2 separate regions of the Homo sapiens genome follow, and region 2 is linked to region 1. A link means that fine-mapping ties the variant in region 1 to the expression of a gene that starts in the linked region. Tissue or cell type: whole blood. Region 1 holds a variant in brackets; the other region holds the start of a gene. All regions are shown on one strand. Distances are from middle to middle.

Region 1 (5,360 bases):
AGGGCTCAACATGCCCCCCACTGCTGAGCAGAGGTGCCCACCTCATTGTTGTTACAGGAAAAAAATAATCATGACAGCAACAACCACAGCTTCCTGAACAGCTGCCGTGTGTCGGGAAGCTGTTTCATCTCCTCCCAAACTCCCTTTGAGTTTCCACAAGGGAACTCATATTACCCCTCACATACTCAGGGAGGCCAGGGATGGTGGCACAGCCAGGCAGTGGCAGAGTTATGGTCCAGCCAGGCTGTGCAGGGGTGCACTGACCCTGACAGCTGGTCAGGCAGATCCCTGCCCAGCTCCACATTCAGTGATGCCTCATTGGCGGACTGGATTGAAATCAGCCATGGAGAAAGCATTTACATCAGGGAAATTGGCCGGTGCTACAGAGCCAGCTTCCTCCCCTCTGCCCCAGAGAGCTGGTTGTTAAGCTGTTACCAGCACACCACAGGGACCATCTGCCTCCTGAGCTCTCCATGGCTTCTCCAGCCCCACCAGGCATCACTGTCCTTCAGGACAGGGCTCCCCTTTGTCGGTTTCTGCTGTACCTTTGCTGATGCCACCGGGGCTGCCAACCAAAACCCTCAGCAGCCTCCCGCGCTGGGCTCCTCTAGCAGGCCGGGGAAGCTGCCAGCGCCAAGAACAAGCACGTGTTTCGTGCTTTAGGACGGCTTCAGGCGCGTTTGCGGAGGCCGGATGAAGCCACAAAGCCAAGTTGGCATCTCCCCCGAGCTCCCACATCCTCGAGGGCCAGAGTCCCACAGGCTTTAGAAGCTGTGGGTGCGGAGGTGCCAGACGGAGCCCCGAGCACTCCCTGGGAGGCAGCGACAAGGGACTCGGGCACTGAGCCGGCCCTGCTGCTGCGGCGCTTCATGACACACACGCCTCCTCCTTCCTGCAGGAGCCCCCTCTTCCGACGCCTTGAACAGATGTTCCACCACTAGAGCAAGCTTTCGGGGAGATGGTGGAAATGAACGGTTTATTCCCTTCAGAACTGGCTACAGAACCCAGTGCGGGACCCAGTGGGGACCTTGCTCAAAGACCATGAAGAGTCTCAAGGCACTGACAGCACAGCATGAACCCAAGCGGGGCCCTTCAAGGCAACGGACGACCGCAGGGTCAGACCCTACCCAAGCCGGACTTGCGACTGGCCTAGAGGCCCCAGGAAGGAACCCCCTCGTGGATGCCTCCTAAGCTGTCCCTGGGCTCTGAGACTCTGGGCTCAGGCCTTGGCTCTGCTCCTATGTCAGATTCGCAGTGAGGTGTCACGCGTCTCCCTGGGGTGGCACGGGGACAACAGCTGTGCTCCACCTGTGAGCACTTTACAACACGACTGGGCAGGCCAGGGCAGACGCTGGCCTCGCTCCTTCCCGGACAGCTGCGGGGGAGAACGCCCCTGTGTGGTGCAGGCTGCTGCGGGGGAGAAGACCCCCAAGACTCCTCACCTCCACCCCCTGCACGTGGGAGCCAGGTCCCCAGGCAGGGGCGACGGGCTGCCAGCTGCCCCGTGTGAGCAGCCTCGCCTGCCCACTTTGGAGCCAGAGGAACAGCAAGCAGGCTCCAGGCCACGGCCCTCCCGGCTCTGGTTCCCTCTGCTTGTCCCTTGGAGGGGCCCATACGGGGCCTGATGCCCAGGAGCCTGCGGCCCCCTTGTCCTGGATCTACTCTGCGCTGGCTTCCAGGAGGGAGGACCCCCTTCCCCCACCACGTCTCATGCCAGCCTCGGCGCAGCTCCGGAGAGCGGGAGGCGGAGGCTCAGAGCGGTGCAGCCCCACCGGGCCCCAGCCCGTTGCCTCCGCCCCCACCTCACCCCATCCCCAGCAGCACCACTTCCGCTCAGGCCTGGCTGCTGGCAAAATCTCGGCACAGAGGGAGGAGGGGGAGAGGAAAACGCATGATTCCTCCTCAAAATGGAGTCAGCCGAAAAAAGCGTGAATGCAGAGCCCGAAGAGACTCCTGGGGGAGGGGAGCCCCTGCAGGGCCAGCCGAGGGCCGGCGCAATGGCTTATCTGAGGGACAGGCAGAAGGACGGACCCCCACGGTGGACCCCAGCTACGCACCGTGTCGTGGTGGGGCGGGAAGGCGAAGGTGTACTCGTCTGCCAGCAGCCTGCGGTAGGCGTAGTCCTCGTGCGCGCGGCTCCCGTAAGCCCCGTAGTAGTCGTACTCGAGGACCTGGGAAGAAAAGACGTGGTCCTCAGCCTGCCTCTTTGGCCCCTCCCCGCTTCCCTCCCCAGAGCGGGGTCCCGCTGAGGCTGTGATGGGGTCAGGCCTGGCCCTGCCCTCGGAGAGCCCTGCACTGAGTGCCCGTGTGTTGTGGACGCGGGCAGGGGGCCCCCATGAGGTCCAGGCAAAACAGAGGCACAAAGGAGGCCGCAGGGTTGCCTGGTGGGTCTGAGAGCCCAGCCAGGGCCCAGGAGGCTGGAGGAGGAGCTGGATGCACCCAAGGTGGGGAACGACAGGGAGAGGTGGTTACCCAGGACCTCAGCCAGGGCTGCTCCCTGGAGCCACGGCAATCCCAGGCCCAGCTCCTGCTCTGGGCCAGCCCCTGCGGGAAGCGTCTTACACTCCTACCAGGTGTGCCCCTTTCTACAGATGAGGAAAGTGAGGCGCAGAGAAGTTATATCTCGCCCAAGGGCACAGACAAGTCCTGGACCTGGCAGTGGCACGAAGCCAGGCAGGTGCGTGGGCTCCAGAGTCCAGCTTTTCTGCCACTGCCTTGGCCTCCCTGGGATCTGCCCCCATCAGACACCCCACAGCCCCACAGCCCCATGCCCCTCCCTGGCCGCTGCTCCTGCAGACAACCCCCCACCCCGCCACCTGCCCTCCTAACTGCCGACACGGCACAGCTGTGAATGCAGGTGTGGGCAATTCTTAACCTCCCAGGGCTGCCAGCCCCG[T/C]CCGCCCAAGCCTCACCTCCTCTTCACACACAAGTGGGAGCCAGTGTGAGGTTGTAAGGGAGTCAGGCTTTGCTGGCATCTCTGCATGGAGTACCCCCCTCCCCAGCAGGGACATCCCACCCACTGCAGCCCTGCCAAGGTGTCCTGGACACCCAGGCTGGCTCCCGGGTGGGGGTGCAAAATCCGCCCATCTTGGGACCTGGGGTGTGTTCCTGACTCTCCTCTCCTCGCCCAGGGACAGGGGAGAGGGGCTTCCAGGGCCAGATCTGACTGGAACACAGTGGGTTGCACTTCAAGACAGGGTCTGCCCAGACCCCTCCTCCCCGCAGGGTTCATGAGGACGGCATGTCCCTAGGGGCCAGCAGGAGAAGAGACGATGACCTGCAAGGCTCTGACCCCAGAGCCGTGGCCCCGTTAGCCAGCTCTGGCTCTCATCTCCCCTCCCGATGCCCTGGAGCTCTGGAGCCTGGCCTGGGCTGTGGGTTGCCATGGGGATGGAAGGTGGGTGCACCAGAGGGGACTGGTGAGACGCAGCCCCGGGAAGGGGATTTCGATTTCTGTAAATCTGGATCAAATGCTACCCCTCAGCTGGCCTTAAGGCCTCGCGTCCCCTGCTCCCGAGGGTCTGGGTCCCAGGTTTCACAGCAGGACTGCCTTTGTTCCTCTCACTGAGGACCCAGGTCCCTGGGAGTCCCCAGAGGACGCCCAGAGTCCAGGCCACTGTGAAACCTCCACTGGGAAACTGAGCACCCTGGGTGCATCAACCTGCCCAGTGCCTGCCCTCCTACGGACATAAACCAACAGTCGGAGTGGCCAAAAATAGATGCACAGAATTAGGAGACGCTCCATTCCTCCTGCAACCTGGGGGAGTCTTCTTGCTGTCTCCCCACCGCAGGACACCCCTTCTGCTCTGCCTACAGCCCTTCCCACTTAGGCCATGGAAGGCCTGGCCACAGCGGACGGGTAGTGGGGAGGACGAGGAGTGGGAATTGCGTGAACGGCACAAAGAATGCACTGAGCCTTGGGGGCAGGTCGGCAGGGCTCGGCTTCCCGTGTGCAGAATAACTGATCACGACAGTGGAACCACCTGGGGAGGCGGGGCACACGGAGGGGCAAGGACGGGGCACGTGGAGGGGCAAGGGGGTTGTCAGGGCAGGGCCTCCCAGCAGCACAGCCCAGCAGGCACTACTCACCGGAGCTGGGCCTCGGGGATGAAACCATCCCGGTCGCTCCCAGCCATGCCGCTCCTGGAACACGCAGCCTTGTCCAAGGAGTTCCTGAGCAGGAGTGGGGAACAGGCATCTGTCACGCATGGCCTGATACCCCTGCGCAGGGCAGAGAGCCACATCCGCCACTTTACACCCAAGGGTGCGGAGAGCAAGGAGGCCCTGACTCTTGGAACCAGGCCTCCAGCCCAGTGTTTGCAGCTACCCTCACTGCCTCACCCTGAGAACCCCTATGTGTAGAATTACCACCTGCCCCATCTGCCCTCACCCTGAGAACCCCCATCTATAGAATTACCACCTGCCCCATCTGCCCTCACCCTGAGAACCCCCATCTATAGAATTACCACCTGCCCCATCTGCCCTCACCCTGAGAACCCCCATCTATAGAATTAATTACCACCTGCCCCATCTGCCCTCACCCTGAGAACCCCCATCTATAGAATTAATTACCACCTGCCCCATCTGCCCTCACCCTGAGAACCCCCATCTATAGAATTACCACCTGCCCTGATCTGCTCTTGCCCCAGGAATCCCATCTATAGACTTACCGCCTGCCCCATCTGCCCTCACCCTGAGAACCCCATCTGTAGAATTATCACCTTCCCCTATCTGCCCTCATCCTGAGAACCCCCAGCTACAGAATAGCACCTGCCCCATCTGCCCTGGCCCCGATAACCATCATCTGTAGAATTACCACCTGCCCTGATCTGCCTTGGCCCTGAGAACCCCCATCTGTAGAATTACCATCTGCTATGGACGGAATCACATCCCCACATAAATTCGTATGTCAAAGCCCTGACCCTGACGTGACTCTATTTGGAGATGGGATCTTTAGGTTAAATGAGGTCATCAGGGTGGGTCCTAATCCCATACGGCTGGAGCCCTTATAGGAGGAGGAAGCGACGCCAGGGCCCTCTCCCCGCTGCATGAGGACAGTGAGAAGGTGGCCGACTACAAGCCAGGAGAGCCCTCTCCAGGAACCCATCGTCTGACACCTTGATCTTGGACCTCCCAGTCTCCAGAAATGTGGGGAAAAAAAAGTTCTGCTGAAACCTCTCCACTTGTGGCCTTTTGCTGTGGCTGCCCTAGCAGAAAGATGCACCATACGACCCAGCAATTCCACTCCCAAGTATGCACAAGAGAACTGAGAGCGGGGTTGTAAACAAATTCCGTTCACGCATGTTCACTGAGCTCTATGCGCAACCACTAACCAGGGGAGAGAACCCCCGTGGCCCTCA
Region 2 (5,360 bases), 35 kb after region 1:
GTGTGTCTCATGTTTAAATTCTGTTTTGTTGTTGTTGTTGTTGTTTGTTTGTTTGTTTGTTTTGAGAAAGAGTCCCACTCTGTCTTCCAGGCTGGAGTGCAGTGGCATGATCTTGGCTCACTGCAACCTCTGCCTCCTGGGTTCAAGCGATTCTCCCACCTCAGCCTCTCGAGTAGCTGGGATTATAGGTGCATGCCACCATGCCTGGCTAATTTTTGTATCTTTAGTAGAGACAGGGTTTCACCATGTTGGCCAGGCTGGTCTCGAACTCCTGACCTCAGGTGATCCGCCTGCCTCGGCCTCCCAAAGTGCTGGGATTACAGGCATGAGCCACTGTGCCCAGCCTAAATTCTTTAAACTAAGAAGTTAAGAACGGAGGTCTCACAACAGCCCTCAATGGAAGGGTGGGGTGGTGTCCTGCCCAGTGTGGACCTCCACTGCCCTTTTCTGGGATCTGCAGGAAAAGTGAAAGGGATGTGGCTGTGATCCAAGATGTGAAGTGCTGTGCCACCTACGTCAGTATGAATGACTGATATAATTATCTAAGAAAGTCAGCATCCTTTTTCAAGAGTGGACCATAGCTATGCACGTTCGTTCACTCTCATTGAACACCTATAGACACATGATAATGTCTCTACTTCACAGCGGGGGAGTCTGACACACGGAGAGGCTCCCTGAGGTGACCAGGGTCATAGGGCCTCCATGTGGCAGTGCCAGGGACTCTCTCCTGCCCCCTCTTCTGACCATCCCAGGGGGACTCAGGACCCACTGCCACACTCTGTCCCACCTGAACTGTGGGCACTGCCCAAGCCCTGACGAAGCCCAGAACCCTGTCCTAGGCACAGTGGGGGATGTGAGGGGGATCCCAGCTCTCAGGCTGGTCAGGGCTGCCCCCCATCTCCTGCCCCAGTGCCCCATCCCAAGGGAGGGAGCAGGGAGTCTGATTGCAGCGGCGTAGGGGAGTGAGGAGGTGTTGGAGCTTGTCCTCAGCCTCTCAGCCCTCAGTGTGTCAGCCCGCCTGGCTCCTGCCTGCAGAGGTGGCCCCGGACAAGGAGGCATGCCTCCTGCATGTGTCTGTACATACCTTCAGTCCTTGAAGGTCCACAGTCTTCCAGGAGCCCCCAAAAGTGGTGCCCCACCAGGGGAAAGCCAGCTTGAGTGGCACCGAGGAAGGCCCTCCAAGGCTGAACACCCCCACCCCACCACCCACCACCCACCACGGTGCCGCATGGCACAGCACACCTGGTCAGCTGTGGGCAAAAGCCTCCCTCCTCCTTCCGACTGTGCCCAAAAAGCGACAGCTGCTGGCGCCGGAGGCTGCCACGTGCCCCTTCACCACCTGCCTGGTCAGTCAGGGCTCTTCTGACTGTCAGACTGGGGGCTGGCAGCGGCCCCAGCGGGGACAGCCCAGAGCCCCTCCTGCCTGCCACCTCCCTGGAAACAGCTGCCTCCACATTAACCCACTCTCTTGCCCCCTCCAACTCTGTCTCGTACCTGAGTCAGCTTCCCAGGAGTGAGGGCTGAGGACAGCCCTGGGCTTGGGATCAGACAGATGGGTGGGGGTTTTGTCACAGGACTGGGGCCTCGAGCAACAACTTAACCTCACTGCAAAGCAGAGGACCCAGGAACGCCCTCCTCCTCCCAGGCTCAGGGGGTGGTGGGGGTCAAGCGAGGAGAGCGCCTGGCACCTTCGCCTGGTGAGGGTAGGCAGACTTGTGGGGAGGAGCGGCAGGGGGCGGGGAGGCAGCTGCCCATATGGTGAACCCTGGTCCTGCTCATGCAGCTGGATGGTCCCTGCAGCCAGAGGCAGAGGGAGATCCCAGCCAGATCTGACCAGGCCCAGCCCCGCCCACATAGGGGAGGCCCCAGCCTCGTCCCTCCCTGGGGGTGTACCTCCAAGTACCTCTTGTCAGCTGCAGTGCCCCTCGGCCCTAAGAGTGCTTGGCCCAGCAGAGGTGCCTTCACCTTCTTGCTTCCCAAGCAGTGGCCTGGCCGGAACTCCAGGCCTCCCCCGCCCCCCACCCTCGCTGCCAGCCCCATGTCTCCGCCCAGGATCTGGGCGGAGCGTACCGCCCACCACTGCGGCTTCTAGGCCAGCTTAGTTGGGGCTTCTAGGCCAGCCCTGTGGGCAGCTCCCTCTGAGGGCGGCAGAGCAGGGTTGTGAACCCCATGCCCCATTACCCGTAGGCGACCTGGCAGTCACCCTTCCGCTCCAACCCTCATTTCCTCGTCTCTGAAACAGGCGCCTCAGGGTTGCTGCAGTAGACCCAGGCACCACCTGCCTGCTGGAGCCGCCCGAGCTCCCCGCGCCCAGAAGGAGCTATGCACAGGCAGGGTGGGCAGGAAAGGTGGGGTCAGCAGCAGCTTGGGCCAGGGGCCCGTCCACTGCAGGGAGGCTCCTTTGGTGAGGTCATCTCAGCACATGCCCCAGTTTGCTCACCCCCAGGGACAGGATGCTCACTGCCTTCAGAGGCGAGTGAGAAGGCCTGGGTCAGCTTCCCAGGGACAGGGTCTCCTGGTCTGTCTGCGTCCTGCTTTCCCGAGCTCCCAGACCCCTCTGGTGTTTGGGGAGATGCCCCCAAGCCACTGGCTACTGCACAGCACGTAGCCCCCAGGGCAGGGATTCCAGCCTCCATTGACTGTTGGGGACAGCAGTGCCCAGGGAGGGGGCCACACAGCAAGCTGGTGGAGGAGGCAGACCGGATGCTGCAGCCTGACTCTGGGCTGGGGCAAGTTACCCCTTCCCAGACAGAAGTAGACACCCAGAGGAGGGGTGTGGAGGAAACCCAGAAAGAATACACCTCTGGATGCCCAAAGAATCAGAACAGGTGCTGATGGAAAGTCACATCTCCTCCTCGCGCTGGATCAAAGACGGGGCATTTCAATGGCAGTCTGTTAATATTGTAATGATGCCAGCTGCCAATACCGGAAGCGATCGTATAGTAAACTGCTGTAATTAATACCAATCAAATCATTGTGTTCTTATTCACACCGAGGATGTCCGACTGTCTTGTTGCCAGCTTGTCTATCCTCTACATTTACTGAATGCCCAATGTGTACAAAGCACTGCTGGGAAACCTATAGTGACATCTAAGACCCAGCCCCTGCCCTCGAGGGGCTCAGGGTCCACGAAGCAGACAGATCCAGGGAGAGACACGACACCACAAGGCTGGCTTCCTTCCAGCAGGGAATCCAGGAGGACCTCTTAGAGGAGGGGGCCTGGGCTCTGGGCCTGACCACGTGCTGACACCATTCTCAGTCCCTGCCTCAAAGGCAAAGGGCCCACTGGCTTAGGCCCCTGGCTGCCCAGTGGAAAGCTGGCCCCGCCAGTTTGAGGCTTACCTGGGGTGGTGTGGGGGTCCTGGGGCAGAGGACCTCCTCTTTGGATGGTGTGGCTTGCCCAGTGGCCTGAGCTAGGGCTGTGCTCACCCAACAGGGTGACGAATGAGCTCAAGAGGGCAAGGAAGGAGTGTGGCCCAAGTTCTCCCAGGAGTCCTGGACGTGCAAGTGCATGGGAGAAAAACGCAGCAGTCACCACAGCTCCAGGGCAGTGGCCGGGTAGCCCACACTTCTCCTGTCCCTGCACTCAAAGACAAGTTGCAACTGTTGCAAAACTGTTACAAGCCAAGAGGGCAGCACAATGAACCTGCACTTTGGACAAGGGGTGGTGGCTGGGGGCCGGTCCCGGCCTGTTAGCTGTCTGTTAGTATCGTAGGATTTTCATCCGGCAGGGCCTGTTAGCACCCAGCTCCGGTCTGGGAGAGGTGGAAAGGCTGTCTCCCCCCAGGGACTAGTAGTCACAGCTCTGGAGAGGCCAGGCTCCGGACAAGGAGGCCAAGACAGGGTCCTGTACGATCTCGGGCTGGTCTTATCACCTCTCCCTTTGCTGAGACTTAGTTTTCCCATCTTGGAACAGGAGGCTGGAAGCCCTGCCATGTCAGTTTCACAGAAGCCTTGTAAATTTCCCTGAGTAAATTTCCTTCAGTCCTGCTCTAGATCACACCAACAGAGGGGCTGCCACCTCAAAGAAGTCACCCCACCAGGGATAAAATCTACTTGATCACGGTGCATGATCTTTTTAATGTGCTGTTGAATTTGGTTTGCTAATTTTTTTTTTTTTTAGACGGAGTCTTGCTCTGTCGCCCATGCTGGAGTGCGGTGGCACGATCTCGGCTCACTGCAACCTCCGCCTTCCCGGTTCAAGCGATTCTCCTCCCTCAGCCTCCCAAGTAGCTGGGATTACAGGCACGCACCACCGTGCCCAGCTAATTTTTTGTATTTTTAGTAGAGACGGGGTTTGACCATGAATGGCCAAGCTGGTTTCGAACTCCTGACCTTAAGTGATCCCCCCACCTCGTCCTCCCAAAGCGTTAGGATTACAGGTGTGAGCCACCGCGCCCAGCTGGTTTGCTAATATTTTGAGAGGATTGTTGCATCTATGTTCATCAAGGATATCGGTCTATAATTTTCTTTCTTGTAATGTTATCTGGCTTTGGTATCAGGGTAATGCTGGTCTCGTAAAATGAGTATGACTCTATGTTTAGTGCACTCTGAAGAAAACTGTGGTGCAAATCAAAGTCACAGTTGACTCTACATTCAGGAGTGAGGGGCTGCCTCCAGGTTCACTGCCCTCCCCAGCCTCCCCGCCACCGCTCCAGTGGGGACTGTGGTAGACTTGTTCCTCTGCCCTCATGGCCTGGACATACCTGAGCCAACCCCAAGACTCTTCCTCTGGCTCAGGCTGGCCCTCTCTGCAGGCCCCCACCAGCCCTTGGCCCCGACTTGCTGGCCAGGCTTCCAGGACAGAGAGAGGTGCCTGCAGGCTGCCCTCTGACGGGGCAGAAGTCCAGGGAGGAAGAAGCGGAGGCGTTGGGGGAGGAGGCTCCTCCACCGAGCTCTGCGTGCAGCCCTGTGAAAGAGGACATGAGCAACAGCATCCCAACCCAAACTATAAGAGCCAACATCACCACTGACCAGGAGGAAGGCAGTGCCCCAGTCACCTCTGAGGGCCTCCTGGGAGTCAGGCAGCGTGCTAAAGGCTTCACACGTGTCATCTCAAATGAGACAGCAACAACTGCTACCCATCGTGGAGATGGGAAAACTGAGGGAGAACACAGCCAACAGGTGCCAGACCCAGGTGATTCATGGGCCAGGGAAATTTCCAGAACAATTTTCAAGGGCTGAATTTACACTGCCAAGATTTTATTTTTTCAATAAGAACCTGAAAAAGAAAACTACCACTGAATATCCCCGTGATTTCATGAAGACAGAATGTTTTCTATCCTCTGTCAAAGTAGAAGAGATGCCCTCCCAGGGTAAGGGTGGTCCTTCCTGAGAAGCAGGTGGCTGCCCCCATCTGC

The links. PIP is the estimated chance that this variant, and not a neighbour inherited with it, causes the effect.
Region 2: it holds the start of SARDH, and the variant in region 1 is fine-mapped to the expression of SARDH in whole blood (TOPMed, PIP above 0.99).

What each region holds. Positions count from the first base shown.
Region 1 is chr9:133,700,859-133,706,218 of GRCh38, forward strand. SARDH (sarcosine dehydrogenase) reads right to left here. Exons shown (of 21, transcript NM_001134707.2): 12 at 4,090-4,173; 13 at 2,058-2,171. Among named protein-coding and RNA genes, the nearest start is that of SARDH, 35 kb to the right of the region's middle. The variant T/C (reference allele first, on the strand shown) is at 2,897.
Region 2 is chr9:133,736,351-133,741,710 of GRCh38, forward strand. SARDH (sarcosine dehydrogenase) reads right to left here and starts at 2,002. Exons shown (of 21, transcript NM_001134707.2): 1 at 1,904-2,002.